Regions from separate parts of the Homo sapiens genome. Here region 1 is linked to region 2. Evidence: fine-mapped expression QTL. A gene starts in region 2. The other region holds a variant in brackets. All regions are shown on one strand. Distances are from middle to middle.

Region 1 (13,685 bases), 34 kb before region 2:
ATGGAGGTAATGTGGGCCTGGGATTTGTGTCTTTTTCAGAACAGTGCAACCCTGAAACTCGTCCTGTTGAGAAAAAAATAAGATCAGCTCTTCCTACCAAAACCGTAAAGCCTGTGGAAAACAAAGGTGGGTTGGTTGACTTCAAACAAATCTACAAGGGACTTCACATAGAATAAGTCGAAGGAAAAGGGGAGAGTGGGGCTGGTCAGGGAATCCAGAACAATAGCTTCATTGGGAAGGAACAGCTTCCTTAGCCTTGAGCATCAGGAGTGGGGCCATGTCATCATGGGTGATATTGAGGCAACAGCCTGAAAGCAGTATTCAGGAGAAGAAAAATGGGCAGAAGACAGAGATGAGAAAGGCCATGGCTGTGGTTTGGGGGTTTGCGGTGGGCCCTGCTGGCAGGAGCCTTCTCTAGCCCATAGCTGCTGGTCTCCCTCCATGAATCTGGCTGGGACTGTCAGTTCACCTGAACTCAGCCCAGGCAGGAGGCTTTCTTTGTCCTAGATCATCTCGCTGCTGCTGGGGGTTCAGAGCTCACAGCAGTAGTGGGCTGTCAACCCATCCGTCCAGCCATCTAAACGTTCTTTAATACCTCCTGGGTGTCAAGCACCATGCCAGGCTCTGAAAGCAGCCCCTCTGGTGCCACCAAAGAGGTATTGAACATTCACTCCAAAGGCATGGCCCATTTTTGCCCTTTGAGAAATTTCCAGGTTGGGTTCAGGCAATGCCAGCAGTTTCTGCCCATGCTGAAAGCACAGGAGATTCTACTTGGCTGGTTTTTACAGAGCATCCAGTTAATTGGCCCATCACAGGGTTGGAGCCATGTTGAGGTGGGGATGGGTATTAAGTTATTAGACAACCGGGGTCTAAGCCTAAAGACCACAGGACCACATATACAGTAAGGATGTGAACACTAGAGTGCATTTGTTAAAATCACCAATTCTTTCACTTAGCCTCCCTCTTCTAAAAAAGGAGTGTTAGTATAGTCACAGACTCCGGAGAAGAGGATTTTTGTCTGTACCTGCTTGAATACCCCTATCACTATCACATGTGCGTGCACACATTTTTATCCTGTTCAAGTAGTGGTTAAAATCTGGTGCCCAGGCCTCCTTTTTAGCCATGAGCCATTGACTGTTTTGTATTCCTTAGATGATGATGACTCTATAGCTGATTTTCTCAATAGTGATGAGGAAGAAGACAGAGTTTCTTTGCAGAATTTAAAGAATTTAGGTAAGTCTGTGCTATGCTTGTCAATCGTTGAGATACATTTACTGTGTTGTAAGGATTGTGATTTTTTAAAAAGTTTTTAATTTCTTGAATAAGTATGGCATGTAGGGCTCTTACTATCTAGCCACATAATCTGTAAACATACAGGGTTTCACACCTCCCAGCCTGCCCACACCATTCCTTCTGCCTGGAATCCTGCTGGTCTTGTGGGTTGGCAAAATTCTGCTCCTCCTTCAAGCCTTGGTTCAAGTTTTCTTCACTCAGCTAAGCTTTTCTTGACCTTTTGTGTCTCTTTCAGAATTAGGCACTTTTTTGGTTTCCCATAGCAACTTGGACTTAATAGTAATAAATCACTGTTACATTTCATGGTAATTTGTCTCTCACATACCGATTTGTACAGCAGGGACCTGTATTCCCAGATCCCCAGTGCTCAGCTCACAGTCCAGCCCTTAACACAAACTGGTTATCACATGATTTGATTTAGGGGGAAACAGGTGTTGCCATTTTTGTAGCACTGCTTATTCAGTCCTTACAACATTCTGTTACATGTGCATGGGGTCTGTTAATTTCATTCTTCCCATTTCACAGAATCATGTTAAAAGGTTATGTTTTGCACTTAGTCTCATGGTAATGATTAGTTAGACTGAGTTTGGAGATGAGCTAGTAATAGGTGTGAAAAATTTTACAGACTGTGAAGTACCATGCAGGTATTATTGTTGGTTCCCTGCTACTGGTGCTGCTGCATGCCAAATGGCATGCTTAGACATCATTCAGATTATTTCGTATAGCCGTCTTCACCACTGGCAACTTTTATGGCTAGAAAGAAAGAAAACATGCCAGCAGCTTAATGCTACTATTTGCTTTGTGATTGTGCTGATAAAGCATTTTTTTCTTAGCTGAAGTGGCACGAAGTTACAATATTTACAAAGATACCAAGAACTGGTATCTGTTACTGCATTTAATGCGGAAATAGTTTGATATGCTGGTCTTACCTTTCATTTTATAGAGGTGGGGTCTCGCCATGTTGCACAGGCTGGTCTTGAACTCCTGAGCTCAAGCAATCTGCCCACCTTGACCTCCCCAGTTGCTGGTATTACAGGCATGAGCCACCACACCTTGCTGATAGTTTTATTACACTTGAAATAGCTCTTCACTTTTCAGCCATCTCCATGTGTTTCCACTTGAACTCAGACTGGCTTTTTTTCTTGTTAATTTTTAGGGGAATCTGCAACATTAAGAAGCTTATTGCTCAATCCACACCTCAGGCAGTTGATGGTCAACCTCGATCAGGGAGAAGACAAAGCAAAGCTCATGAGAGCTTACATGCAAGAGCCTTTGTTTGTGGAGTTTGCAGACTGCTGTTTAGGAATTGTGGAGCCATCCCAGAATGAGGAGTCTTAAGATGGATTATTGTGCTGCTTGCTCAAGCGTGTGCTTGACTCCTGGAACCTGCCTGCTCCCTCTCCCAGACCAGCTAGTTTGGGGCTGGGGAGCTCAGGCAAAAGAGGTTTCCAGGATGCAGATTAGGTCATGCAGGCCTTTACCGGCATTGATGTGGCTCATGTTTCAGGCAGACTTGGGGTCCTTAAGGTGGCAAGTCCTTTATGGAGAGAAAACTTGACATTCAGATGATTGTTTTTAAATGTTTTACTTTTGGTACAGTTGATAGACATCATAAACGATATCAAGCTTACACTTCATATGGAGTTAAACTTGGTCAGTGTTAATAAAATCAAAACGTGATTCTACTGTACATTGCATTATTCATAATTTAATTGTTTGAAATTACATTAAATAAATCAACTAATTAAATACTAAAGTTTTGTTCCTTTTTAAAGGAAATAACCACAAGATTTTTCCCAGCCCAAATTCCAGCGCCAATTTTAGGCCAACTTTGGCTGTTTTCTTCCAAAAGTGCTTATGTGGAATTGGGATCCCCAGTGTAGTGACAGACAGTCATGACTGCTGCTGAGTTTGATCTGTGAAGGTAGTGAAATGTGGCCCTGATGTTTCTTAACCCTGATTTGGTAACTACCAGCCCTGACACCATCAGTGCTTGATGTAGCCTGGAACCCCAGGCCCACTGACGCACTGGGCACGGGGCTCTGGGTCGAAGGCTGGAGCCGTCACTGTTGTTCATGTGCATTTGGAGCACTGTGGGAATAGTCTGGCAGCTGTGTGCTGATTAAATGTCTTTGGCAAGGCAGGGGGCAGGAAAAGGCCTTGTGGAAACAAAGGCACCAAGGATCACCCCAGCCCAGTGAAGGCAGAAGAGGTCACGTGGATCAGCCTGTGTCTTTCCAGCAGAATCTGATTAAAGCCTGTAATGCTGTAGGGTGAAGGTTCAGGGCAGATGTCAGCATACCGCAGTGGAGACTTTCTGCAGTGAAACTTTATCGATCCCTAGAGGGGAGAGAGAGATGCAGCTTTAGCACTAGTTCCTGGGAGTGCCAGGGCCTAACAACCCCACAGAGCAGACGCTAAAAATGCAAGAAGGTATGGACAAGTACTAGTATTGGGGGCCACAGCAGGATTAAAATAGCATTACATCCACTCAGTGTGAGACAGATGAGGAAACCCTAGGAGGAGGCGCTCCCTAAGAGGAATGTCTGTCACATTCCTATGACTGCTTAAAGCCAGAAGGGCAAAACATTTACCCTTCTGTTTAGCAGGCCTGTGTGTTTTCATGGGAGACTTCATCCAGATTAAGGCCTATAGTTATTCCTCTGAATGGAAATTTGGTGTTTCCTTCTGCCTTGTCATTTCACTTACTCCTTGCTGTGACTCCATGCAGTAGGTTGAGTATTAGCCCATTTTATAGACAGGCTCCGAGAAAATGTGTCTTAGCCAAGATCATCCAGTGAATGGGGCAGAACCAGGATCCAGACCCTGGGGTTCTACCTCCCAGTGCAACATACTTTCACCTTTCCTCGGCCACTTTAATTCTATGAGGCCTGGCTTACTGGGGTGACTCACAAAGCCCTGAGTGACAATGACTTCCTGAGTGTGCTGGCTGACTTTTCCCTGGATGCTTATATAAAAACAGCTGGGCACGGTGGCTCACACCTGTAATCCCAGCACTTTGGGAGGGCAAGGCAGGCAGACCACTTGAGGTCAGGAGTTTGAGACCAGCCTGGCCAATATGGCGAAACCCCGTCTCTATTAAAAATACAAAAAAAAAAATATAGCCAGGCATGGTGGCACATGCCCTGTAGTCCCAGCTATTCGGGAGGCTGAGGCAGGAGAATCGCTTAAACCCACTGCATTCCATCCTGGGCGACAGAGTGAGACTCCGTCTCAAAAAA[T/C]TAAATAACATGAAAAAAAAAAAAAACCCACAGAGAACTTGGACCACTGACCCTGCTTGTCATTTCGTCAGCCAGAAAAGGAAAAAACCAAGCAATACAATTTGGGGAAAACATGGTGCCAAATCCAGTGCCATTTGAGGTAACAAACTCCTCACAACCCAAGTTGTGATGTGGGACTAATTAGATTATTTGCTCTCAAGTCTTGGGTAGTTTCTTTTTTGCTATGTCTCGTGAATTTTTCCTCTTTTCTGTAATTGACCTATTATTACCCTAAACCAAACTTTTTTTTTTTTTTAGATGGACTCTCGTCCTGTCACCCAGGCTGGAGTGCAGCGGCGCAATCTCGGCTCACTGCAACCTCTCCCTCCCAGATTCAAGCAATTCTCATGCCTCAGCCTCCCGAGCAGCTGGGACTACAGGCGCCTGCCACTACGCCCAACCAATTTTTGTATTTTTAGTAGAGATGGGGTTTCGCCATGTTGGCCAGGCTGGTCTTGAACTCCTGACCTCAGGTGATACACCCGCCTCGACTTCCCAAAGTACTGGGATTATAGGCGTGAGCCACCGCTCCAGGCCCTAAGCTAAACTTTCATCACCTCCTGCTCCTGACTCATCTAAAGCCTTGGTTCTCACAGTGTGGTTCATGGAGCATCAGAATCAGCTGGGAGCTTGCTAGAAACGCAGCATTGCATTTGGAAATGGGACTAGAAGATTTAGAGATGCTGAAATAATTAGAAGCAGTTTTTAAAAAGATAAAGGGCTCTGGAAGATTCCCAGTTATAACAAAATAAATAATCCAAACCTGCAGCTGATTGGGACATGCAGCCCTCTGGTTTACCCAGTAGGGTTAGGGATGGATCTTGTCCCAGCCTCAGTCTCATTCCCGCTGTGAACTTGTAGGCTTTGCTCCTGCTGTTCTCAGGAACAAAGCTGTCATGGCCATCACACACAACGTACCTGAGGCAGCGCTCGGATGGACGTGACACCAGCCTGGTCTTGTGCTGTCTGGACAGTGTAGCTACTGGGGCTGCCCCTGGGGAGCTGGAGGCAAGCCCAGACCACTAATTTCCTCTGAAAGCTGCCTACACCCATAGCCGTATTGGCCAGGACCAGTCCCAGGGGCCAGAGGCGGATTATTGCCTCCAGGAGCCTGGTCTGCAGCGGCGAGGTGCTCAGGGAACAGGGAGCTTGAGAGAAGTGTTTTTCTTCCACACCATCCAGCTCTTTAGCAGCAAGGCAGGCCATTCTGATCTTAAAAAGCAAATATCCCTTTATAGCTTTAGATTTATCTAGCCCTCTTAGCAGAAAATGGAAATCAAAACTATCTTTAACAAATCATCTTAACAAGGTGAACTGAAGGCACCTGGTTGCAAACAGCTGGCTGCCCTGAACCAAACTGGTTCCATATGCCACAAGTCTATACACCCCAGGCAACTGTGCTTAGGCCTTACATATGCTACTTGAAAACAAGATAAGAGTCCATCAAGATATAACTGATATGCCATAAAACCCAGTCTTCTAAAGTGTACATCCCAGAGTTTGGTATATTCCCAGAGTTGCTTATACCACTCTTCACCTACATAACCACCCTGCAGGGTAGGTGTTACTGTGCCCACTGCATACATGAGGAATATGAGGCTCAGAGAGGCTAAACAACCTGCCCAAGGCCACCTGCATTGCAGTGGCAGAGCCAGCATTCCCACTCGGGTCCATCTGGTCCCCAAAATTGATCCACTGCCCACCCCGACTTCTTGGGTCTTACTTACTCTCCACTTCTGCCATGCACGCTTGATGACTGTGGCAGCTGCATGCAGCCTCTGGATGTGTTTCCGAGTTAACCAGGAACGAATGGCTAAGAGGTTTGCCCAGAAACAGGAAAGAGATAATAAAGGGGCCATTAGAGCTGTCAGTGACCTCGCTGCAGCAGCACCACAGTTGCTGTCAAAGTTTCAAATACGTTTTTTTTTTTTCAATAAATTGCTACAAATAAGGTTCTAAAATCAATACATAAGGCAAAATTGGCTTTTAAACATTCCTTACACTGCCCACACACTTGAATACACCTACACAACACAGTGAAGGGGCACTGGGGAGAAGGACTGGCTGAGGGCCCAGCAATCACTTCCCGTCTCAGGCTGGGTCCAGGTCAGCACCCAGGGAATGGGAGGGGTCTGGATTGTCTGTGCCTTTAAAAACTTTTTTTTTTGTTTTGTTTTTAATCCTCAGTTGAATTTGTTCGCTTTATGCATCCCTGATCTCACATCACCATATACCCAAACACTGATACAATTAATAGATGGTGGTAATTTTTATTCCCTTCTCTGCAATTTCAGCATATTCTTTTTCTTTTTGTTTCTTTTTTTTTTTTTTTTTTTTTTTTTTTTTGAGACAGGGTCTTGCCCAGGCTGGAGTGCAGTGGCACGAACAGCTTATTGTAGCCTCCGTAAGGCTGTAGCTTCAATCTCCCAGGCTCAAGCAATCCTCTTGCCTCAGCCTCTGGAGTAACTGGGACTACAGGCATGTGCCACCAGGCACGGTTAATTATGTTTTGTTGTTTTTTTTTTTTTTGAGACAGAGTCTTGCTCTGTCACCCAGGCTGGAGTGTAATGGTGCAATCTCAGCTCACTGCAACCTCTGCCTCCTGGGTTGAGGTGATTCTCCTGCCTCAGCCTCCTGAGTAGCTAGGATTATAGGTGCATACTACCACACTTGGCTAATTTTTGTATTTTTAGTAGAGAAAGGGTTTTGCCATGTTGCCCGGCTGGTATGAAATTCCTGGGCTCAAGTGATCCTCCCACCTCAGCCTCCCAAAATGCTGGGATTACAGGAGCGAACTACTGTGCCCAGCTTCCTTATACAATTTTTTAATGCCTACACACACACAAACACACCTTAAAAGGAGGGCATCGCCCTTAATATGTAGTTTGACATCTAGGTATGAATATCATTTTGGAAGTGGTTCTCCATTAAATTTATAATATTCTTCAAAAACACTTAGCTGCATCATAGGGATGGTCCAGTCCATCATTTGGCCATGATGTCACCACTGTTAGATATTTGGGTTCTTTCCAACACTTTTCCTTTTCAAAATAAGACCACTATGAACATGTTGGTTAATACATCTTTTCATCTGATGAACTCCTTTTGGTTTTTACCTTCTCCTTAAATTCATTCCAGCCCTAGAGCCCAGCAGGTAATGGTTTGAGTTGTCATAAAGGGAAAAAAAGTTGGCCTAAACAGCTGTCAGGGTCTGAGAAAGGAATTAAAGACAACGCTTAGACAACGCTTAGCCTCCACTTCTTACAGAGCACCTTTGTTTGTGGAGTGACTTGGTTTCCATTGAACTGGAGAGACGTTATGAGTGAGGGGGACAGGGAATTTGAATCCCAGCACACCACAGGGACATCTCTTCAGGCTGGGACACAGCTTCAGGAGATGGGGACTCGACGAGCTATGTTTCAAAGGAAACCAACATCCTGTGGGGTCTGTGAGCAGTGCTGACAGGTGACCTGCCCACCTACCTGCCTGGATGAGCATGACGGCCCGCCACTGCCGCTCCTGCTCTCGGTGCCGGTGTCGCCTCCAGCCACCCTGGATGCAGCGGGCACACTGCTCCAGCACCCGGGCACGCCCACATTCCAGAAGCTCCAGCTGGGAGAAAAGGCATCCATTGAGGGCAGCCTCTTCTCCCCCTGCCCCCTCCTGCTGAGGAGAGCACACAGCTTGCCTCTGTAACCTCCTCATCCCCAAACCAGCTCACCATAGAGTCAGTCATGAACACCTTGGTCCTGCCACAGTGCATGGGGGCTGGCATGGCCTCAGCCGAGTCACCAGTTATGGCTGCTGCCTGAGTTAGGACCGGCAGAGTGTGGAGAATGTCCTGGATGAGAGGTTCAAGCGTGGCTTCCTCGCTGTGTGGACACCATTCTGGGGGAGGGAGATGGCCCCATCAGTGCATGGTCATCTCTACATGCCTCTGTGGCCTGAAGAAACTGGCTTTGGCCTCCCTAGCACTCTACAGGTCTCTTTCCTGCTGTTCTTGGCTCTAGCCATTTTCTCCTTGTTCTTCTTTTGGAGGAAGCCACAAACAGCCTCTCTGTTGTCCCTCAGGGTGCTAGCTGTTCCGTGGAGCCTTGGAATACCCACTTGCGCCTGTGTGTCCTGGGGTGTCCCACAGCCTCTACTGCCATGAGTCCCTTTGGGCAGGCTGGCAGAGGGTGCTTGACACCTGGAAGGGTGACTCCTTCCAAGCTTGGAATCCCAGGCTGCTCAGCCAGCATTTGTTTCCAAGGCCCAAACACACATCCTGAGGGCCAAATAGGGCAGCTATAGGCCACTCCCTCAGCCCCGACCCCTCAACTCCCCACCATGTATGGGAAAAGGGAGATCCAATCCCAGCCCTTAGTTTGGGAATCTTCTACTGCAAATAAAAAGAATAAATTAAAAAATAAATTTAAAAAATCCCAGCCCTGCAAAGGTCCCGTGTCCCACTGCCTGCCCTCCCGCAGCTCGCAGAGCTGACTCCTGGAGAGGTAGGATTTACCTGAGGGCTCTGACCACCTTAGATGCCCAGTGCCTCTCTGAAGACAGAGGCTGCCAAAGGAGACACCACAGATGAGAAACAGCAGCAAAATCAACCAGGGGCCAGAAGGGCTATGGGCAAGAGACACGGAACAGGACAGCAAACCATGGAGAGGGAGAAGAAAGGAGAAAGGGTGAAAGGAAAGTGAAAACTGCCCAGGAGGGGAGGAAACAAAGCAGGATTGCCCCAATGGCTGTGAGGGGCCCAGGGTAAGGCTGGGTGGGAGGGGCAGAGGTGCTGGGCTGGGGTCCTGCCGAGGCGGGGCCCCCCGGCAGCCTGTCCTTGGCCTGTTCTCCCTCTGCCTGTGTCTGGGCCCTGTGGCTCCCACAGCCTCTCTTTTATCTGCATGCCGACAACCCCCATATGAGGGCCTCCAGATCCTTCCTTTGAGACTAAAGCCTGCCTAAGTGCCTTGCAGACTTCTTCACTGGACCTGCAGGACAAGTCACCCATGCCCGGGCTCTTCAGCCTCCCTGAACCTCTTTTCCTCTTGCTTTTCCTCACTTCCCAGGCTAAGTTAATTTACTCCTTTCCTCTCCCTCTACATCTAGTCAAGCCCCTACCAAGACTGACCAGTTTCTTCCAACAAATATTTCCCGACTGTGCCCACAATTCTTGTTTCTCTCTATTGGGGCAACTTTGCAGCCTCAATCCCACAGCCCTCCATGGTGCCCCCAGAGTGGTCTCCAGAAAGTGTGAGGCTGATAAGAGTCATTTGCTCCTTCCCCTGCAGTGCCTGCTCATCTGCCCAGAGAATAAAGTCCAGATTCCTTGATGGAGCCCTACCTGCCACTCCAGCCTCACCTGCCCCAGTTCTCTGCCTCAATGAACCAGCAACACAGAACTGGCTGGAGTTCCTCATACCCACACTGCTGCCTCAAGCCTCTAGGCCTTTGTTCAGATTACATTTATCATGTGGACCACCCATCACCTGGCTAATCCAATTTATTCTCAGATACTACCTCTTCCAGGAAGCCTTCCCCAATTCACACCTCCCTAGCACCACCCACAGCATCCTGCTCATAGCTCTGCTTTTCCACTTTCCATGCTATTTGTCTTTTTTGAATCTGTTTCCCCCACTGAACCAAAACCAGGGCTGTGTTTTATTCACCAGTAAGCCCCAGCCCCTAGCCCTAAGACAGGGCACAGGGTAGATGCTCAGTAAACTGTGGTTGCACAAATGACTAACTCATGGGTCCCACTCACCAGGGAGCCCTTTGGCAGGATATGGGCTGTCGGGGCCAGAGGATGTGCAAGGATGAAGCCTTCTTAGTAACTTGTATCGTTCTACAAAGTTTCGGTGAGAGACCCTGGAGGCCAAAGCAGGCAGAAGTAGAGAATTACTTCATCTGTGAGCCAGGTTAACGGTTCAGGGCTCATCAGAAGTTATTCTATTTAATCTGCTCAACAACACAGCACGGTGCTGCCCTCCCCGAGTATCCCCACTGAATGTGAATGTGGTTTTGAAGCGATTTCTAGGATCACTTAGTTGGAAACCCATAAAGACTATTTAAAATGGGTCTGCTCTCCCTGCTGCCTTGGTCTACCAACACAAAGCATCTCTTGTGTTAGCAGGGGATTTGCGGGCTGCCTCCCTCCAAAGGGGCTGACAGGCCTCTCCCCAAACAATTGGACCAGTCCTATGACGCAGACATGCTTGGCCACATCTCCCCTCTGACCTCTCTGACCCCACAGTCTCCTCTGCCTCCCCCAGATCTCCCTGCTCCTCATCAAGGCAACACTTCTCAGACAGCTGCTGGCACCTGATATCTGCACTTCCTCCCAATTGCTTGTCAGCCCTCCTGAGTCTGGCTTCTGTCCCCAACATTGTACCAGTGTGGCTTTTGTCACAGCCATCAGCTGGGTACAAAATAGTGCACAATAAGTGAATGGATGAACGAATGGGTGCTGCTCCCTAGTTCCCAGCTGACTTCTACAGACCAGCCTCTTTCTCTTCATTTCCACATCTCACTCTGGGTTGGGCAGGCTCTTGCCCAATGAGAGTCCTGAGCCCCACTCTGTACTGGCCCTGCACTGTGCCGTGATCGAGCCCACTCACCGGATGGGGAAGCCAGCAGCACTGATATGGATGGTCTCCACGAGGCCACAGGCCTCCAGCTGGCTCAGGACCTGCAAGGGTGGGGAGACAGGGCAGGCACCTGCAGCATGGGGCCAGCAGGCCAGAAATGCCATTCTCTCAGCCCTTCTTCTTAGACCCTGGCCAGTGCCAAGCTGCAGGCTCTCCCAAGGCTTGGCTAATGGGGGTATCTCCTTGGGGCTGTGAGAAATCGAGGGACCTTGAAAACAAATCTCCCACTAGAAAGGGTCCTGGTGGTCCCAAGTCCCCCTCATCCGACGCATGGCTTCTGATACAGCTGAAGCAAGTGATGTCCTGGCTCCGTCTCACCCTGCCCTCAGTGTAGTCTCACTACCACACAACCCAGCCCAGGCAAATTTCCAGTTTGGATTGTTTTCACTGTCTGCAGGCATTAGAGGGTGGTTCACAGCTGAGAGGCAGGGAAGATTATACTATGAAGATTCTTCTGTGACCTGAACCCAGGTCTTTACCACAGAGCTGAGTTGTCCTGGCTACAAACCGGAAGGCCACATCTACCAGGCCACACCTTCAGCAGTGCCCAGCATTCACCCCTCATCCACATCCCTCAGAACCTGGAATCCCAAGAAAAGGGCAGCTGCTGGCTAGAGTGCTTTTGTTAGATTAGAAAAAAATGATACCGGCTGAGTGCAGTGGCTGCTCATGCCTGTAATCCCAGCACTTTGGGAGGCTGAGGTGGGCAGATCACCTGAGGTCAGGAGTTTGAGACCAGCCTGGCTAACATGGTGAAACTCCATCTCTACTAAAAATACAAAAATTAGCCAGGTGTGGTGGTGCATACCTGTAATTCCAGCTATTTGGGAGACTGAGGCAGGAGAATCACTTGAACTCGGGAGGCGGAAGTTGCAGTGAGCTGAGATTGCACCACTGCACTCCAGCCTGGGTGACAGAGTGAGGCTCAGTCTCAAAAAAAAAAAAAAAAAAGAAAAAAATGATACCTCCAGTGAGAAATGGCTGCACTGTGCGGGGACTGTGTGGTGATGTAGACTTTCAGCTAATCACGAGACACCCATTCCTCTGGGCAGTTTCAGTCTCTCATCAGGGTACATGGCTCAAAAAAACAAGATGCACTGGAACTTGCCTCCCTGGCTAGGCTACTATGCACAGACCACACAACCATACATGCCTGCCCTGCCACAGCAAGGGAGATGGGTCCTCTCTCATGTCAGGCCTGGCCGGAGAGACCACTTCTGTGCACTCCATTTGGAACAGATGTCCTGCCCTTCATCTCTCCAGGGCCTTGGCCAGATGGGGTTTGGTGCGAAGCAGCTTTGGCCCGGTGTTAATTACCTCCTCTTGGAGAAAGGTCTGCGCCTGGCCCTGGCTGTTGGGCTTGATGCAGCGAATGTAGTGGGGCGTGGTGCTGTGTAGGACCTGCAGAAGCTGCTCCAGTGAGGCCTGCAGATGAGAGACCATGGGGTTAGGCAGGGAGAGGGGCTGCCCAGGGCCATCAACTGGGCTCTGGTTAGTAACTACATCAAATGCCTCCAGCGGGCCCTTCCATGATCCTGAGACCAAGAATCTCCTGTGCAGGGATGACTGCTGCAGGCTCTCAACGAGCAGGCTCAGAGCACATTCCTCTCCCAACTTCCCATGCTCCTCACCTCTGTCTTAAGGGACCCTTCTAAACCTGTGATCCTCCCTGACTGTTCTCCCTGAATCCAATCTCCTCCTCTTTCCCCTCCCCACTTCTCCCCAGAGCAATCTTCTTAGAAAAGAACAATCTCAAAACTTCTTGCCATTCGTCCAGCAACAACTGTTATCACTCAGCTCATCCTGTGTGTTGGAGGCTGTGCCACAGGCTGCCTGCTGCCATGTCAGAGCTCACTCCAATGGGCCACACATGTTGGATGAACACCCTCGGGGGTGTGTTTGAGGCTGGGTAGGAAGGTGCTAATCAAACCTGGTTTTCCAGGTGCCTCCTCGAGGTGGTGGTGATAAAGCTAAAGTCTGAAGGATGAGAAGGACTAAACTAGGAAAAGGGGCGTGGAGGATGGGAGTGAGGTGGAGCTGATGGGGCAGTAGTCAAGAGTATCCCAGGAAGGTGGGGCGGTACATGCAAGGACTGAGAGGTGGTAGAAAGCAGACGATGTGAGAGAAGTGAGTGAGGGTAGGGTTAGAACAGGAAGCTAGACAGCTGGAGATGAGCCAGGTCAAAGAAGCTCATGTAGCTGATCCTCTTCCCATGAGCACCCCAGTGGCAGGGGGTGAGAGGCTGCATAGTGCCCCCATAGGCCCCTAGACTTCCCATCATATTATACCTGATAGCCTATTTGTCTACTGTTTCTGTCTTCCACACTGAAGTATAAACTCCAGGGGACTGGGACCACATCTACTTGACTTGCCACTGCTCCCCAACAAACAGCACCGATCCCGGCAGGTGCTCAATAAATATTTGTGAGACCGTGGAGTTTGAACCAAGCACCTCCCATCAGCACATCAGACCCACCTT
Region 2 (16,577 bases):
AGTGGTGGGATGCTTCCTCCAGAAAAATTTTCTGGATGTCACATTGTTAGGCCCAACTTTAGAACCCCTATGTTGGCTTTACCTATTCATTTTCTCTCAGCCTAGAAGCAGGGCTAGCCTTGACCAGTTTATGACATTAACACTTTATACCCCCATCTTATCTTGCTTTAATTGTCTTATCCTTCTGCCTATTACTTCATATTACTATAATTTGCAATTTGCAAAGTTCGTATAAACTACTAAGAAGCCTGTCCACTAATTGGAAATATAACCCTATTTTATAGATAAGGAATGTGAGGTTCAGAGGAGTTAAATAACCTTGCAAGGCCACTCAGCAAGTAAGTATATCCATGTGATTTAAATTCCAAAGCCACTGTTCCCCTTTTCTTCAACAACTATTAACTGTCTTCAATGTACTAGGCATCAATCAAGCTGGATGCTGAGGAAACATAGGGGACTACGACTTGGCTTTTACTTTTCCGGAGGCAGGGCAGACAGCAGACAGGGCTCTCAGGACAGACTGCCCCTGGATTCCAACTGGATACCTCATCACGCATGAACTTCTGGAGGGCCACGCCATCTCCACAATGCCTAGCTAACCCAGCCAGCAGTGATCACTTACCCACAGCTTGCTGAGGGAGAAGGCAACTGTTCCATATGGCGTCAGAGCCACTCCTCTCTACACCTGCCCTTGCCCCAGCCACCTATCACCTGGAGGGATACAAAGCCTCCAACTGTTGTCTCTGCCTCCTGCCTCACCTTCTTGAACCCAACTCCCACAGTAATTATTCGTCTAGTGGGTTCTGTTCCCAGTCCCACCTCTACCTGGATGAAGATGCTCTGCAGATTCTCTCTGCCTGCTATGGTGCTTCAGACTCTTCACAAACAACCCTGGCTTTCTCGTCTTCCTGCTCTCATCTACTCCCTCTTGCCCCCAAGACCTCCCTCCTGCCAGCAAGTTTTCTCTCACCTCTCCCTGAATGCATCATGCACTTTTACACCAACAAGCTCATTATCTGTCTGTACCTCCACCACCCCACCCCAAATAACTTATCCTTTTCTCAGTAAAAGAATAAGTTACTTTCCTCAGCAGAGATAAACATATGCTGAATTTTCCAGGGCAATCCTTATCGTGTATAATTTCATTCTTTCCTAAAAAGGTAGTTTTGCTGGACTCAGTGGCTCATGCCTATAATCTCAGCACTTTGGGAGGCTACGGCAGGTGGATCACTTGAGGTCAGGAGTTCGAGACCAGCCTGGCCAACATGGTGAAACCCCATCTCTACTAAAAATACAAAAATTAGCCGGGCATGGTGGTGGGCACCTGTAGTCCCAGCTACTCGGGAGGCTGAGGCACAAGAATCACTTGAACCCTGGAGGCGGAGGTTGCGGTGAGTCAAGATCGCACTACTGCGCTCCAGCCTGGGTGACAGGGAGAGACTCAGTCTCAAAATAAATAGGGCCGGGTACAGTGGCTCACACCTGTAATTCCAGCGCTTTGGGAGGCCAAGGTGGGTAGATCACCTGATGTCAGGAGTTTGAGACCAGCCTGACCAATATGCCTACTAAAAATACAAAATTAGCCAGGTGTGGTGGCATATGCCTGTAATCCCAGCTACTCAGGAGGCTGAAGCAGGAGAATTGCTTGAACTCAGGAGGTGGAGGTTGCGCTGAGCCCAGATCATGCCATTGCACTCCAGTCTGGGCAATAAGACTGAAACTCCATCTCAAAATAAATAAATAAATAAATAAATAATAATAAAAAATAAAAAGGTAGTTTGTTAAATAAACAAATATATAATACCTTTATAAATCCTTTCCTGTTAATAAAACCGCAAACAAGAAAAAAAAATCCTTTCTCTTATGTCTCTTATTTTAGGTTCCAAACTCAGTTAAACAAATATTTATTTATTCCCCACTTTGCACCTTCTGTCCTGTAGTCAGTTCTTCATGGTTCAAAATTCTGCCAGCTCCTATTGGGCAGGCCGTGGCACTAGCAGACTCTGAATGACCACATTGCTGGTGAATAGATGAATAAGGACAGGGGTAACTGCAAAGAGGTTTAGCGGGAGGTAGAGGAGCCCTGAGGCCACAGGCAGCGGCAGAGCCTTACCTGGGGCTGAGGCGCAGCATGGTACTCTCTCATTAGCTCGGGCGAGTAGAGCTGAGGAACAGGCTTGAAGGGGTTCAAGGCTACCAGGGTGCAGCCAGCATTGGTGTAGAATGTGTCTGCCATGTACCGGGCCTGCAGGCACCTCAGGACTGAGGCAGAGATGCCTTTAGCAAACTCGGGCTCAAATATAGTCAAACCACACACACAGACACACATCTACTTAAGTAACAGCCCTCTTTCTGCAATTAGCCAAGAATCATTAAATCCCAGCAGCTCCCTGAAGAAAAGATACAAGATCTAATTAAGATGAGCTCCAAATCTGAAGCAAAGCATGCCCTGGGGAGCCCAGGTGCAGCTGTCATGCTCCCTCAGGCGGAGGTCTGGAGCAGCCCACCTGGCTCCAGATCAGGAGTCCTGCCGACCTCCGTCTGACCTGGAGAAGCTGTGCTGACTACTCTCATTACACCTCCAACCTCCTGGAGATGATACTCCTGAGGAATGGGAGGCCCATACCTGTCTCTAGTGTCACAGGATTCACCCTGGTGAGGTCATCCAGTTTGTACAGCAGGACCTCCCCACCCAGGAACTCCTGCAGGTCTTCTCTGAGGTACTCCCTGGCTTGGCCATCAGACCCCGGATTGTGGCCATTGACCTGGAAGAGATAACGTGAAGGTGAGGCCAGGCACAGTGGCTCATGCCTATAATCCCAGCACTCTGGGAGGCCAAGGCGGGCAGGACACAAAGTGAGGAGATCGAGACCATCCTGGTTAACACGGTGAAACCCCGTCTCTACTAAAAAAAATTCAAAAAATTAGCCAGGCATGGTGGCGGGCACCTGTAGTCCCAGCTACTCGGAAGGCTGAGGCAGGAGAATGGCGTGAACCCGGGAGGCGGAGCTTGCAGTGAGCCAACATTGTGCTACTGCACTCCAGCCTGGGCGACAGAGCAAGACTCTGTCTCAAAAAAAAAAAAAACCAAAAAACATGAAGGCCGCGACAGCTGGTACTCAAAACAGCTGGCAGCTACAGAAGGGTGGGAACCTGTATAGTAGAAGGAGACTCTGGTATCATAGTCTGGTTGGGTTCAAATTTCAGTTCTGCCTCTTAGTAGCCCTGTGAGCCTGGGTAAGTTACCCTCTTTGAGTCACAGTTTGTTTATTCGTAAATAAAGGAAAATAAACTCAACTGACAAGGTTATTGGGAAGAAAAGAAGAGATATACAAAGCATTTAGTCAGTGCCCGGCATACAGCATGTACTCAACAAATGCTATCTCTTCTGCCAAGAGCTCCGGCCACTTGCAAGTAGCACTTCCAGGCTACTAGCCTTATTAGAAATAAGGCTATAGGAATGTTGCAAAGGAAAAGAACCATGGGTTAGGCCTTTTTGGGAAGAGACAGTTCAGCTTTTGATGTAAAACAGCTGTACCTTCTGAGAGAGGTAGCCCCATGTCTTCATCACCTGCCTTTTGTGGCTTAAATTTAGGCTGGCTAATGAATTGGTTCCCTTGGCCCGAGTCTGCTTGAGAGAAAGCCTGGCTCAGACGGCTGTCTGAGGTCAAGAATAAGCACCAAGGGAACAGGTCCTTTCTCCTCCCTTGCCTATCTTTTTTTTTTCCTTTCTTTTTTAAGAGATGGAGTCTTGCTCTGCTACCCAGGCTGCAGTGCAGTGGCATGATCATATCTCACTGCAGCCTCCAACTCCTGAGCTCAAGTGATCCTTCTGCCTCAGCTTCCTGAGTAATTGGGACTAGAGGCATGAGTCACCCTATCTTCCTTTGCCCATTCTTGATGTATCATCCCTCCACTTCCTCCTGTGGTCCCATTTCTCCTACTGTCTCCTTTGGGGATGCAGGAAAGACAGAGTGGGGGTTGAAGACAGGTATCTTGCTGAAATGTGCTTTTGAAGGAAGAGGTCTGTGATACAACAGGTGAATTTCCAATGAGAATGGTGAGCCTAAAATTTCAAATCTCTCATAGAAATAAGCCATGGTGGCAAATTTCCTCCAAGAGGCCCAGTAATGCATTTCTTCCAAAACTGTTGCCTGTTCTCTGAACTTTGGGCCCACTATAATGCACAAGGTAGGCTCTTGGCCTCCAGAGTAACTGCGGAGGTCAGAGCACAGCTATATCTATGCATATCCCTCTCCTTTTATGAAGGGGAAAAAAAAACCACCACTACACAAACCATTCACAAACACAGACACAATTTATGAAGAGTTCTGATCCAACCAGAGAGGCATCTGAGTATAGTGATCAAGTACCTGGACTTGAAAGTTAGTTGTCTGGCTCTGAATCCTGACTCTATCTCTTACAGTTATATACTCTTATGTTAATTTCTTAATCTCTTTCTGCCTCAATTCTCCTCATCTGGTCCCTGTAATCCCAGCTACTTGGGAGGCTTAGGTAGAAGAACCACTTGGGCCTAAAAGTTCGAGGCTGCAATGAGTTATGATTGTACCGCTGCACTCTAGCCTGGCCAACAGAGCAAGACCTTGTCTCTAAAGTAAAAAATAAAAATAGAAAAATTTCCAGCTGGCCATAGTGGCTTAAGCCTGTAATCCCAGCACTTAGGGAGGCCAAGGTGACCCTGTCTCTATAAAAAATATTTAAAAATTAGCTGGGCATTATGGCATGTGCCTGTAACCCCAGCTATTCTAGAGGCTGAGGCAGGAGGGTTGCTTCAGCCCAGGAGGTCGAGGCTACAGTGAGCTATGGGGATATCACTGCACTGGGCAACAAAGTGAGACCCTGTCTCTAAATAATTATTTAAAGTTCTTTTCTGTAAAATGGGATAATGGTACCTACCTCACAGATACTCACAAGCACAAAAACACACGAAGGATTTAGAAAGGCCATCTGGAATCTGCCAAAAGGGGTTAGCTATTCTTCTTCTAAAAGTGGCTTTTTTTTTTTTTTTTTTTTTTTGAGACGGAGTTTCGCTCTGTCGCCCAGGCTGGAGTGCAGTGGCGCGATCTCGACTCACTGCAAGCTCCGCCTCCCGGGTTCACGCCATTCTCCTGCCTCAGCCTCCTGTGTAGCTGGGACTACAGGCACGCGTAAAAGTGGCTTTTGTATTTTTTTTTTTTTTTGACACAGAGTCTCGCTCTATCGCCCAGGCTGGAGTGCAGTGGCACAATCTCGGCTCACTGCAACCACTGTCTCCCAGGTTCAAGTGATTCTCATGCCTCAGCCACCCAAGTAACTGGGATCACAGGCATGCACCACCATACCTGGCTAGTTTTTGTATTTTTAGTAGAAATGGGGTTTTGCCATGTTGGCCAGACTGGTCTTGAACTCCTGGCCTCAGGTGATCTGCCCGCCTCGACCTCCCAAAGTATTGGGATTACAGGCATGAGCCACCGTGCCTGGCCTTATTTATTTATTTATTTAAGAGACAGGGTCTCACGGCTGGGTGCGGTGGCTCACCCCTGTAAAAGCACTTTGGGAGGCTGAGGCAGACGGATCACTTGAGGTCAGGAGTTTGAGACCAGCCTTGTCTACAGAGTGAGACTCCATCTCTAAAATAAAAATAAATAAACAAAAATTATTAAAAAAAATTTGGAGGCTGGGCGCGGTGGCTCACGCCTGTAGTCCCAGCACTTTGGGAGGCCGAGGTGGGTGGATCACGAGGTCAGGAGATCGAGACCATCCTGGCTAACACGGTGAAACCCCATCTCTACTAAAAAATACAAAAAATTAGCCAGGCGTGGTGGCCAGCACCAGTAGTCCCAACTACTCGGGAGGCTGAGGCAGGAGAATAGCATGAACCTGGGAGGCAGAGATTGCAGTGAGCCAAGATCAAGCCACTACACTCCAGCCTGGATGACAGGGTGAGACTCCATCTCAAAAAAAAAAAAAAAAAAAAAATTGGAAAATAGAGATAAGCAAAAGGAGCATAAAAATCCATAATCATACTACCCAGAAATAACCAATATTTTAGAGAATATCATAGGTTTTTTCCCCTACATACTTTAAAAACATTGAAAAGTATTATATTTTTGTGTAACTTGCTTTATTCCATTGTATTGATATACCTTTTTTTTAATAAGAGAAAAAAAAAGTTTAAAAATAAGCAAGAAAAAAGCCCAGAGCAGTCAACTGTTTTGCCCACTTCTTACCTTCAAACCTGTTCCAGGAGCCATATGGCTGGAAGGTCAAGCTGCAGTGTCTACTATGGCTCCCTTGATGCTGGCAGGCCCCACACCTGGCTGCTACCTTGCTGATGTCAGGCACTTACCTACCCAAGACTCCACTAGACTCTGAGCTCCTTGAGGGCAAGCACCAACCTCAACATCTGCCTCAGCCCAGTGCCTGGCAACACTTGGTAAAATAAAAAGTCAGCAAATAAGTACTGGCACTCTCTCAGGACCAAGAGTTACACATGAAGGATGATATGGGTATGAGAGAGAGCTCCGCTGTAAAAGGTGATTTGGAATCCTACAGGCCTGGGGCAACAGTAGCCTTTTCAGAGAGGCAGAGACATGGGGATCATGTAACCCATGATCCACTCATTAGAATCCTTCTATATTTCCTCATAGTCTCCTACATTTCTGCACAGGCTGACCTCTTTGCCTGGAGTGCTTATTTTCCTTCTCCAAGTGGCTAATTCTTTCTAGTTCTTTAAGGCTTAGCTTCAAGGAACACATCCTCTTGGAAGCCCCAGGCTTCTACTATGCCTCAACAATTCAGGTGGCAGGGACATCTCTCAGGACTTCCTCTGCAGAATCCCCAAAGTGCCCTAAGGATTCCCTTACCCATCCCACCTTACCTATCCCAAAGAAAGGAGCTAAAAACCACAAGACAGATTCAAATTAGGTATCAGGAAGAGTTTCTTGATGATGAGTAAAAGGCACTGGAGAGACAATTTGAGGAGAGAAAAGAGACCTTTAAGGGGGCTTTCCCTTCCTTCCAGGTTAGGGCTAGCAACAGATGCTGCAGGTGCTTGAGGGCCTGGGTTATCTAAGGTTGAGGTTTTACCTGCTGGAGCATCCTCCTTCAAAGTGGTCAGCCAGGGTTCTGGGTTGCAGGAGGTACAAGGAGTACTATCCACCTAGTCATGGGACCATGGGCTGGGGTATGGTTCCAACAAAGGGCTCAGTTCTGGAGGAATCTCAGACAAGTCACTCCAGCGCCTGTGGCATGAGAGAGAAGACAAGGACCACACACAGGTGAGGGCTTTTCTGGAGTGACTCACTCACTCCTTCCCACCTAGCAGAAGCAACCAAAATGAGATGCAAGGCAGGCCTGGGCGGAGAGTGGGCCTGTCCTTTCCCTTGCCAATTAGGAGACAGGGAAACTTTTATGAGAGCCTCAGAGGCTCCCTGGGCCAGTTTTATTACAGGGTTAGGGTTTGGGTTGGGGTGGGGCTGCAAACCCTCTGGGTCAGTGTGCCATGGAGGAGGAGTAAGACACTGGGGAGACAGAGAAGCCTTGTGCCCTATCCTCTACATTAGACAGAAATATCCTATTTCAGTCGTTGGTGAGGAGGAGAGGCTGGAGTCATCTCTCGCTGCTCCAGGAAAGGTGTGGTGTGGTAGTTTATATCACAGTTCAATCACTCACTGGGTGTGTGATCCTGGGTCAGGCACATCACCTACCTCAATTTCTTACCTTGAAAATGGGGACAGTTAAATCTGCCTCATAAGGAGTGGTTGTGAAGGTCAATGAGGTCATGGTTTGACAGCACCACACAAAGTACGAATCTGAGTATTCACTCAGAGGATAAACACTGTTAGCACTACGACTAAGGGTTGATGATCCATTTGGGAGCGCTAATCAGGTGAACGGTCCAGTGTCAACTTCAAGAAGGTGAGGATTTCAGGGAGATGAATCCATCTGGGAGGTGGGGTGTTGTGAGGCTGGGCCTAAGCCAATCTTTGAAGAATGGTTAAGTGACCCTCAGACTTGGAATTTTCTAGGCCTTGGCACCACCCCTAGCAAGGAGAGATGAGGCTGAGGGTGAAGCGTGCCTGCAATGGATTAACCCTGGTGGAGACTTTCTTGAGGCTCTGAATACATCAAGTCTTTAAAGAACCCAGGGATAGGGACTTCCATAGAAGCTGGAAAAAGGACAATTGAGGCGGAAACAGGTATCAGGACCGTGCTGGACCACTTAAGGTGTGGTGCTACAGCCCTAAAAGATCCTGACCCTGGACACTGACTGTACCCCATCCAAGGGACAGCCATGCAGAGGGCTCCAGAGAACAAAGCTCTTTCAACTGGGAACTCATCTCAAGCAATAGGTCCAGAGGGGCAGCACAACAGGTTTGGGGTTTGAATCCAAAACCCAAGGCCCCTGGCACAGAACCCAAGAACTAAGCCTCACTCTGTTTCCTCGTTTACAAAACGGAGTGATAATATCCAGATCTCACGGGGCTAAATGAAGCGTTAAAGGGGCTAATACCTGTGAAAGCGCTCTGCAAATGTTATTACGATGCAGCATCAGCTCCTAGCTGGAGTCAAGTGAGATTAGAGCAGTTTTCTCCAGTTCTCCCAGCTCCTGCTCCAGTCGGTTTCGCGGTTACCAGCCAAGAATTTCTGGAAAGGGTGTGAACACTGTGGGCAGAAAGGAGACGGTAATGAGTAAATGGAACACCGAATCAAGGCAAGTGGCAACCTGATCACCAGTCCCTCCTTCTCAGACTGTTTCTTTCTAGGCATGGAGGACAGTGGGAGGGCAGACGCTGAGAAGCGCTGGGTAAGGATCTCATCAGTCCAGCTGGCTCCGCCCCCAGGTTCCCGGCGGGAACCGGGGACTCAAGGTCCGGGCGTCGTGCCGCAAACCCAGGGCTGGGATGCCGTTCCGGAAGCACCTGGCACGGGGAGAGTATGTCCTTCCCAGGAAGGTGGACGTGACCCCAGCCAAGGGCGCAGCTGCCCTGACACCTCCCGGGACCAGCCGCCCCCTCCCGGGGTCCTCAGCTGGGCGAAGAGTGGAGCAAGGACCCTCTCCCCCCAGGCCGCCCCCTGCCGGCCAGGTGGAAAGGTGGAGGGTGATCAAGAAAGACTTGTTTCAAGCAAGAGCCAAGAGCTGGGCTACCCCCTCGTGAGACACAAGAGGGTCAAAAGGAAAAGGCAAAAAGGAGGGAAACGGCGCTTTGGAAGGGGAGGTGGAGACGCCTACTTCTTCCTCACCGCTGCGGGGCAAACTGGCCTCCCAAGCCCCTTCCGCGTCTGAAGGGCTTCAGATATAGGTTCGGGTTGACACTCACCGGTCCCACGGCCCGAGCCGCCGTGCTTCAGGCCCCCGCCCGGCCAGACTGGAAAGGCGGGCGGGCCAGGTCAGGCGGCGGGAAGAACACGGGCAGGAGAGAAAAGAGGAGGGGCAAGAGCGTGCAGTGAGGAAAGGAACCTGGGAGCGCCGAACCGCACCCCGTCGGCTGCGGCACTGCTAAGTGGCCGGGGGTCGGCCGGCTCCTCCCTAGGGGCGGGGCGAGCACTCGCGGCGCGGGGCGCGCACGTGGCTTGGCCGGGACGCCTGGTCCGGCTTGCTGGCTTCAACTACGGTGAGATGTTTTGCGACCCTGGGGTAAAATGAGGGTAAAGCGGCAGCTTCCCACGTTCTGGGGGAGAAGCGCGGAAGCACGGTTTCCTGGGCCTTCGGGCGACACCAGGACTGGGGGTCTTTCAGTAGAGGTCGCCGCGGCGGAGTCTTGTGCGAGTGCGGCGGAGTGTTGTGCGAGGCCGGCGGACACCATTACCCTGATAGGGCCTCGCCGTGAGGTCTGAGGGGCCGTGTGAGGTGCATGGCGCGCCGTTTCCTCTCCAGGCGCTCCTCTCAGGGCTACGGCCCTAGAAGATCTGGCCTGCACCAGCCCAAAGGACATGACAGGAGTGGGTAGCCCACGGGACACTGGCACGAGCGCCATGATGGGCGGAGACGCGCGGAATCGGCCGGCCCGGAAGTGCCAGCTGCCTGCGTCGGCCGGAAGTGCCGCGCGGGAGGCGGAAGCGGCTGGTTCCCGCGTGGTTTGGCGGGTGCAGCGGCAGTCCGGCTGCCCTTCCCACGTAGACCGTCTGCTGGGGGCGCCGGCACCATTTGGAGTACGTGAGGTATACGGGTAGGGCGCGGCCAGGTCGGGCGTCTGTTAGGAAAAAGACTTTTTATTTTTATGTTTATTTTTTAAGAGACGGAGTCTCGCTCTGTCGCCCAGGTAGGAGTGCAGTGGCGCGATCTCGGCTCACTGCTGCCTTCCACCTCTGGGCTCAAGCGATCCTCCCGCCTCAGCCTGGCATTACAGGCGCGCACCACCACGCTCAGCTAATTTTTAATTTTTCTTTTTTTTTTTTTCACTCCTGGCCTTAAGCGATCCTCTCTCCTCCCAAAGCGCTAGGATTGCAGGCATGAACCACTTCTCTCGGCTAGGACTTTTATTTTTAATGGTCAACTGATTTGAGTTGGTTACTGTGAGATATTGTCACAGGTTCCAGACAGGCCATAATGCACGCATGCATTCACTTACTTATTCAGCTCATGGTACATTTAGAAACTCTAGGTTCATGTTTAACCAACAAATGTGTTCTTCCAGTATGCCGTTTTTCAGACAATGATGTGTGGCATTCAGAGGTGTTTTACAACCCTTAATAAAAGAGCAACTAACACTAGTATGTGCTATACATCCATTCTTAATGCACCCACCGTACCTACTTCCATCCTAACCTGAAAACATAGCTGTCTGTAAATGAGGAAAGGAGCAGCCTGGGGATCCAGAAATCACTGCAGGGGTCACGTTTTGTACCAAGGCAGTAGGTTTGGAGAGGCTCTGAACTGGAACCAAGGCCCCCAACTTCAAAATGTACTTGGCCCCTAGCGTTTGAATTTGCTTTAAGGTCATTAGTAAATCCTATTCAATTTGCATCAAAGAATCTTCATGATACGTACTGTGCTCCATAATAGAAATTCCCATCTGCCTATGATGCCATTCTCAGAGTTTATATCCCAAATTCGCTCTCTTTTCCTTTGCTTTTTCTTTTCCTTTTTTTTTTTTTTTTTTTGAGATGGAGTCTCACTCTGTGGCCCAGGCTGGAGTGCAATGGCTCACTCCAACCTCTGCTTCCCCGGTTCAACCGATTCTCCTGCCTCAGCCTCTAAAGTAGCTGGGATTACAGGCGGGTGCCATCACGCCTGGCTAATTTTTGTATTTTTAGTAGAGACGGGCTTTCACCATGTTGACCAGGCTGGTCTCGAACTCCTGACCTCAGGTGATCCTCCCACCTCGGCCTCCCGAAGTGCTAGGATTACAGGTGTGAGCCACCACGCCTGGCCCCAAATTCACTTTCTTTGTGAGTCTGTCTTGTACAGGGAATAGCTGAAGCTTTGTAACCAATAATTTAATATTATTAGTATGACATTTCTATCTGAACACATTAGTGTTAAGCTTCTTCCCACAATCCTTGGAAGGGGAATCACAAATCCTAGGTGAACTCATTAGGGCCCAAAGTTCTGCTCTGAAATCTAGTAATAAGAGTAAAATTAAGCCAGGTATGCTAATTACACAAGAATGCTGCTTTTCACAAATCCATTCCTTTGCTCTTGTTTTCACAGGAAGAAAAATGTCTGAAAAGCAGATGAAGGAAGCTTTTGTCAGTAACCTCAATGGAACCACCGTGCTGGAAATCACCCAGGGATTGTGCTTTCCTGCATTCTGTATCCTGTGCAGAGGGTTCCTGATCATTTTCTCACAGTACTTGTGTTCTTTTTCACCTACCTGGAAAACTAGATTCCTCACTGACTTTGTTGTCCTAATAGTTCCCATGGTAGCCACTTTGACCATTTGGGCTTCATTTATCCTCCTTGAGCTTCTCGGTGTAATTATCTTTGGGGCAGGGCTGTTGTATCAAATATACCGAAGGAGGACCTGCTATGCCAGACTGCCTTTCCTAAAAATCCTTGAAAAATTCTTGAACATCAGTCTAGAATCAGAATACAATCCAGCCATCTCCTGTTTCCGTGTAATTACCAGTGCGTTTACTGCTATTGCTATTTTGGCTGTGGACTTCCCACTTTTTCCCAGAAGATTTGCCAAAACTGAGCTCTATGGGACAGGAGCAATGGATTTTGGAGTAGGTGGCTTTGTTTTTGGGTCTGCAATGGTTTGTCTAGAGGTCAGGAGGAGAAAATATATGGAAGGGTCCAAATTGCATTACTTTACAAACTCATTGTACTCTGTTTGGCCATTAGTCTTCCTAGGAATCGGACGATTAGCCATTATAAAATCAATAGGCTATCAGGAACATTTAACAGAGTATGGAGTTCACTGGAACTTTTTCTTTACCATAATAGTTGTGAAATTGATAACACCACTGCTGTTGATTATTTTTCCCCTAAATAAGTCCTGGATTATTGCCCTCGGCATTACTGTATTATACCAGCTAGCCCTTGACTTTACCTCACTGAAGAGGTTAATATTATATGGCACTGATGGTAGTGGCACACGGGTTGGTCTATTAAATGCCAACCGCGAAGGAATAATCTCTACCCTGGGGTATGTGGCAATACACATGGCTGGTGTGCAAACAGGGTTATATATGCATAAGAACCGATCACATATCAAAGACTTGATAAAAGTAGCCTGTTTTCTTTTACTGGCAGCTATTAGCCTCTTCATATCTCTTTACGTAGTTCAAGTAAATGTAGAAGCAGTATCTCGAAGAATGGCAAATTTAGCCTTTTGTATTTGGATAGTTGCTTCTAGCCTGATCCTTCTTAGTAGTTTATTACTGGGTGATATAATTTTGAGTTTTGCCAAATTTCTAATTAAAGGAGCTCTAGTACCATGTTCTTGGAAACTTATCCAGTCACCTGTTACAAATAAAAAGCATTCAGAATCTCTAGTCCCTGAAGCCGAAAGAATGGAACCCAGTCTTTGTTTAATCACAGCTCTAAACAGAAAACAGTTAATATTTTTCTTGCTGTCAAATATAACAACTGGCCTGATCAACCTGATGGTAGATACATTACACAGCAGTACCTTGTGGGCCTTATTTGTGGTCAATCTCTATATGTTTTCCAACTGTTTAATTGTATATGTACTATATTTGCAAGATAAGACTGTACAATTTTGGTGATCAGCAGGAGTAGGATATATAAGTATTTGGGCAATATTTAATGAGGAATATTAATTGTAAAGAAATTGTGCTTTTGGCAACAGTGTTAACCATATTTTATTATAAAATAGTTTCAGTCATCTAAACAGCAGTGATGCTTAATTATTTTTTTTTTTGAGACAGAGTCTTGCTCTGTTACCCAGGCTGGAGTGTAGTGGTGCCATCTCAGCTCACTGCAACCTCCACCTCCCGGGTTCAAGCAATTCTCCTGCCTCAGCCTCCTGAGTAGCTGGCACTGTAGGCATGTACCACCATGCCCAGCTAATTTTTATATTTTTAGTAGAGATGGGGTTTTGCCATATTGGCCAGGCTGGTCTCAAACTCCTGAACTCAAGTGATAACACCCACCTTGGCCTCCCAAAGTGCTGGGATTACAGGTGTGAGCCACCACACTGGGCCAATGCTTAATATTTTAATGTATCTCAACAATAAAACCAAGAAGAAACAAAGCCTTTTGACTTGTTAGAATGTATTAAGTAGTATTTTAAAGAAACTTTATAGTTGTGACATTGAAAGACTGTTGGGGTGGGGGGAGGAAAATTTTTACTTTCCATCTTAATGTAACCTTATGCTATTCTGTATTTTTACTGTATATTGCTTTTACAATAAATATAAAATGAAATGTTTATGTTGACATTTCAGTGTGAACTGTGGATTGTCAATACTTGTTTATTGCTCAATTTAAATTTTTGAATAAAACCTAGGACTAAGAAGCAAGTGTTTAAAATCAAACACTCCAATGTGCAGATGGGTGGATATAAAAAGAAAAATTTTAAAAATAAAATACTTATATACTATGAAGTCAGACAGTTAAATGCACCAAAGAATAGATGGAAGGCTGGGCATGGTGACTCACGCCTGTAATCCTAGCACTTTGGGAGGCTGAGGTGGGAGGATTGCTTGGGCCCAGGAGTTCAAGACCATCCTGGGAAACAGTGAGACCCTGTCTACAAAAAAAAAAATAGACTGAATTGGATGTTATATTATAGCTTATACACATAATAATTACGAGACAAAGTTTTGCTTTGGGATTAATTCATCTTTTAGCCTACCCTATGCTAGGGATTTAAGAAGCACAGCACAAATTTCCTGATACCTCAGAGCTTGCAATCTAGTGGAGGAAACAGACATTAAACATCTATTGTGAAATGCTAAGTTATGAAGAAAAAGCATAGGTTGTCAAGAGTGTCAAATCAAGAACTGACCTAGTAAGGAGTCAAGTTTTCCCCACAGATTTTTTTTTTTTTTTGAGCTAGAGCTGATTAGTGGGATGAGGAGTTATAAAGTCTTATGTGTCTGGGGGCTGGGGGGCAAATGGCAGAGAACATTATAGATGGATGACTCCCTCAGCAAAAGTCCTACGTTGGGAGGGCACCAAGCACATAATGGAATTGAAAGAAGGCTGAACACAGAAGAAGGAAGAGCATGGGCAGAGAGCTGGAGAGGCAGGCAGGGGCCACATCAGGCATCCTCACCTACCATGCTAAGGGAAAGGAGAACCAATAAGAAAGATGAGAGTCATCAAGTACCCAGTGTAATTTAATAAAACTATGGCTAAATTAAGGTTTAATTTAAATCTGTAAAAAATAGAGATGGGGTTGCCCAGGCTGGTCTCAAATTCCTGGCTTCACGTGATCCTCCCATCACAGCCTCCCAAAGTGCTGGGATTACAGGCGTCGTGATCCTGGCCTATAATGACGTTTAATATTCTACTGTCTTTTTTTTTTTTTTTTGAGATGGAGTCTTGCTCTGTCTCCCAGGCTGGAGTGCAGTGGCACAGTCTTGGTTCACTACAACCTCCGCCTCCCAGATTCAAGCAATTCTTCTGCCTCAGCCTCCCGAGGAGCTGGGATTACAGGCACACGCCACTTCGCCTGGCTAATTTTTGTATTTTTAGTAGAGATGAGGTTTTACCATGTTGGCCAGGCCAGTCTCGAACTCCTGTCCTCAAGTGATCCGCCCACCTTGGTCTCCCAAAGTGCTGGGATATAGGCATGAGCCACCGCACCCAACCAGGTGTGTTTATTTTTGACAGATAAAACAGAACTTCCCAGTGTCAGCTCATGAAAAAGAAAACCCAATCCACAGATCCTCAGGTTTAGGTCACTATGGTAATTTAAATAACATTCTGTGGCCATAGATTGTCTTACCACATAAAACTGTGGTTATTATAATGAAACAACAAAAAGTCTTCTAATCAACTATCATTTTCCTTGCAACTATCAATTTTTGAGGGCAGAGGAGAGGGAAAGATAACAAAGTGAGGAGTAAGAAGAACATAATCTGTCCAGGACCTCAGCCTATCTATGCCCTTCAGAAAGTGACTCCCATAATTTTAATTTTTTTTTTTTGAGGCGCAGTCTTGCTCTGTTACCCAGGCTAGAGTGCAGTGGCACGATCTCCTGCCTCTGCCTCCCGAGTAGCTGGGACTACAGGTGCCCGCCACCACACCCGGCTGATTTTTTGTATTTTTATTAGAGACGGGGTTTCACCGTTAGCCAAGATGGTCTGGATCTCCTGACCTCGTGATCCGCCTGCCTCGGCCTCCCAAAGTGCTGGGATTACAGGTGCGAGCCACCGCACCCGGCCAATTTTAATTTTACACAATTATAAACTGGGGATGTCTACTACACGTGCCCCAGTAGCTCTTGTGTGCCGAAGATGACAACCAGTTTTATTTTTATTGAGCATAAATGTCCAATGTATTTATATAAATCATACAAGAACCTTATGTTCCTCCCTAGGAGTTTAAATATAGTCTATGAAGCTAAGACATAATAAGGAATACCTTGGTACTTTTCATTTTTTTTAAACCTAGGTAGCCTGGAGAACAGATAGATCTCATTTATGCCTGCATTTTGTGGCTAGCGTCTCACACATTTGGACCTAAGAAAAAGAATGGTAGTTTGCTGATAATTTATTACAGCTCCGTCCCTCCAACTGTTCTTTATTAGGTACCAGCAAAATGTGTTCTGCTGTTGATTGCCTTTACTTTCCTGGCCTTTCAAATCCTTTGAACTTGCATTTCACAATGCCAATATCAAAATGAAATAATAGGCAACAGACAACTGTCTTTTAATGTAGCAATTATATATTTCGTCAATTAGAGGTTTGCTCTCTAAAAGCAGATACTTTTCATTTTAAAGTACATAGGATAATTCTCAAGAAGTATTTGCTGCAGTACTGGTGGTTATGGCTAAAAATAGAGCAATAGTGAAAATAAAAATAAGTGCCTACTCTAAAACCAGGAAGATGCACAGTGAAAACTTTGAAAAATTATTTTGCCATGAAATAATTTTCTAAGCGTTTTCCTTGGGATATTGATTTTATTGTATCGATTGTATTATATTGTATGGTAT

Evidence for each region. PIP is the estimated chance that this variant, and not a neighbour inherited with it, causes the effect.
Region 1: its variant is the best candidate, but not a certain one, in a credible set for the expression of MYO19 in whole blood (INTERVAL, PIP 0.71).

What each region holds. Positions count from the first base shown.
Region 1 is chr17:36,492,774-36,506,458 of GRCh38, forward strand. ZNHIT3 (zinc finger HIT-type containing 3) reads left to right here. Exons shown (of 5, transcript NM_004773.4): 3 at 40-126; 4 at 1,153-1,233; 5 at 2,450-3,049. The coding sequence ends at 2,631. MYO19 (myosin XIX) reads right to left here. Exons shown (of 26, transcript NM_001163735.2): 18 at 13,683-13,685; 19 at 12,524-12,631; 20 at 11,177-11,247; 21 at 10,324-10,427; 22 at 8,296-8,462; 23 at 8,057-8,186; 24 at 6,302-6,387; 25 at 5,493-5,786; 26 at 2,863-3,633. The coding sequence ends at 3,478. Among named protein-coding and RNA genes, the nearest start is that of ZNHIT3, 13 kb to the left of the region's middle. The variant T/C (reference allele first, on the strand shown) is at 4,536.
Region 2 is chr17:36,525,438-36,542,014 of GRCh38, forward strand. MYO19 (myosin XIX) reads right to left here and starts at 9,431. Exons shown (of 26, transcript NM_001163735.2): 1 at 9,324-9,431; 2 at 8,516-8,667; 3 at 7,090-7,244; 4 at 2,627-2,765; 5 at 2,114-2,262. The coding sequence starts at 7,101. PIGW (phosphatidylinositol glycan anchor biosynthesis class W) reads left to right here and starts at 9,550. Exons shown (of 2, transcript NM_001346754.2): 1 at 9,550-10,155; 2 at 11,657-13,866. The coding sequence starts at 11,665. The coding sequence ends at 13,179. RefSeq lists an enhancer at 8,122-8,797.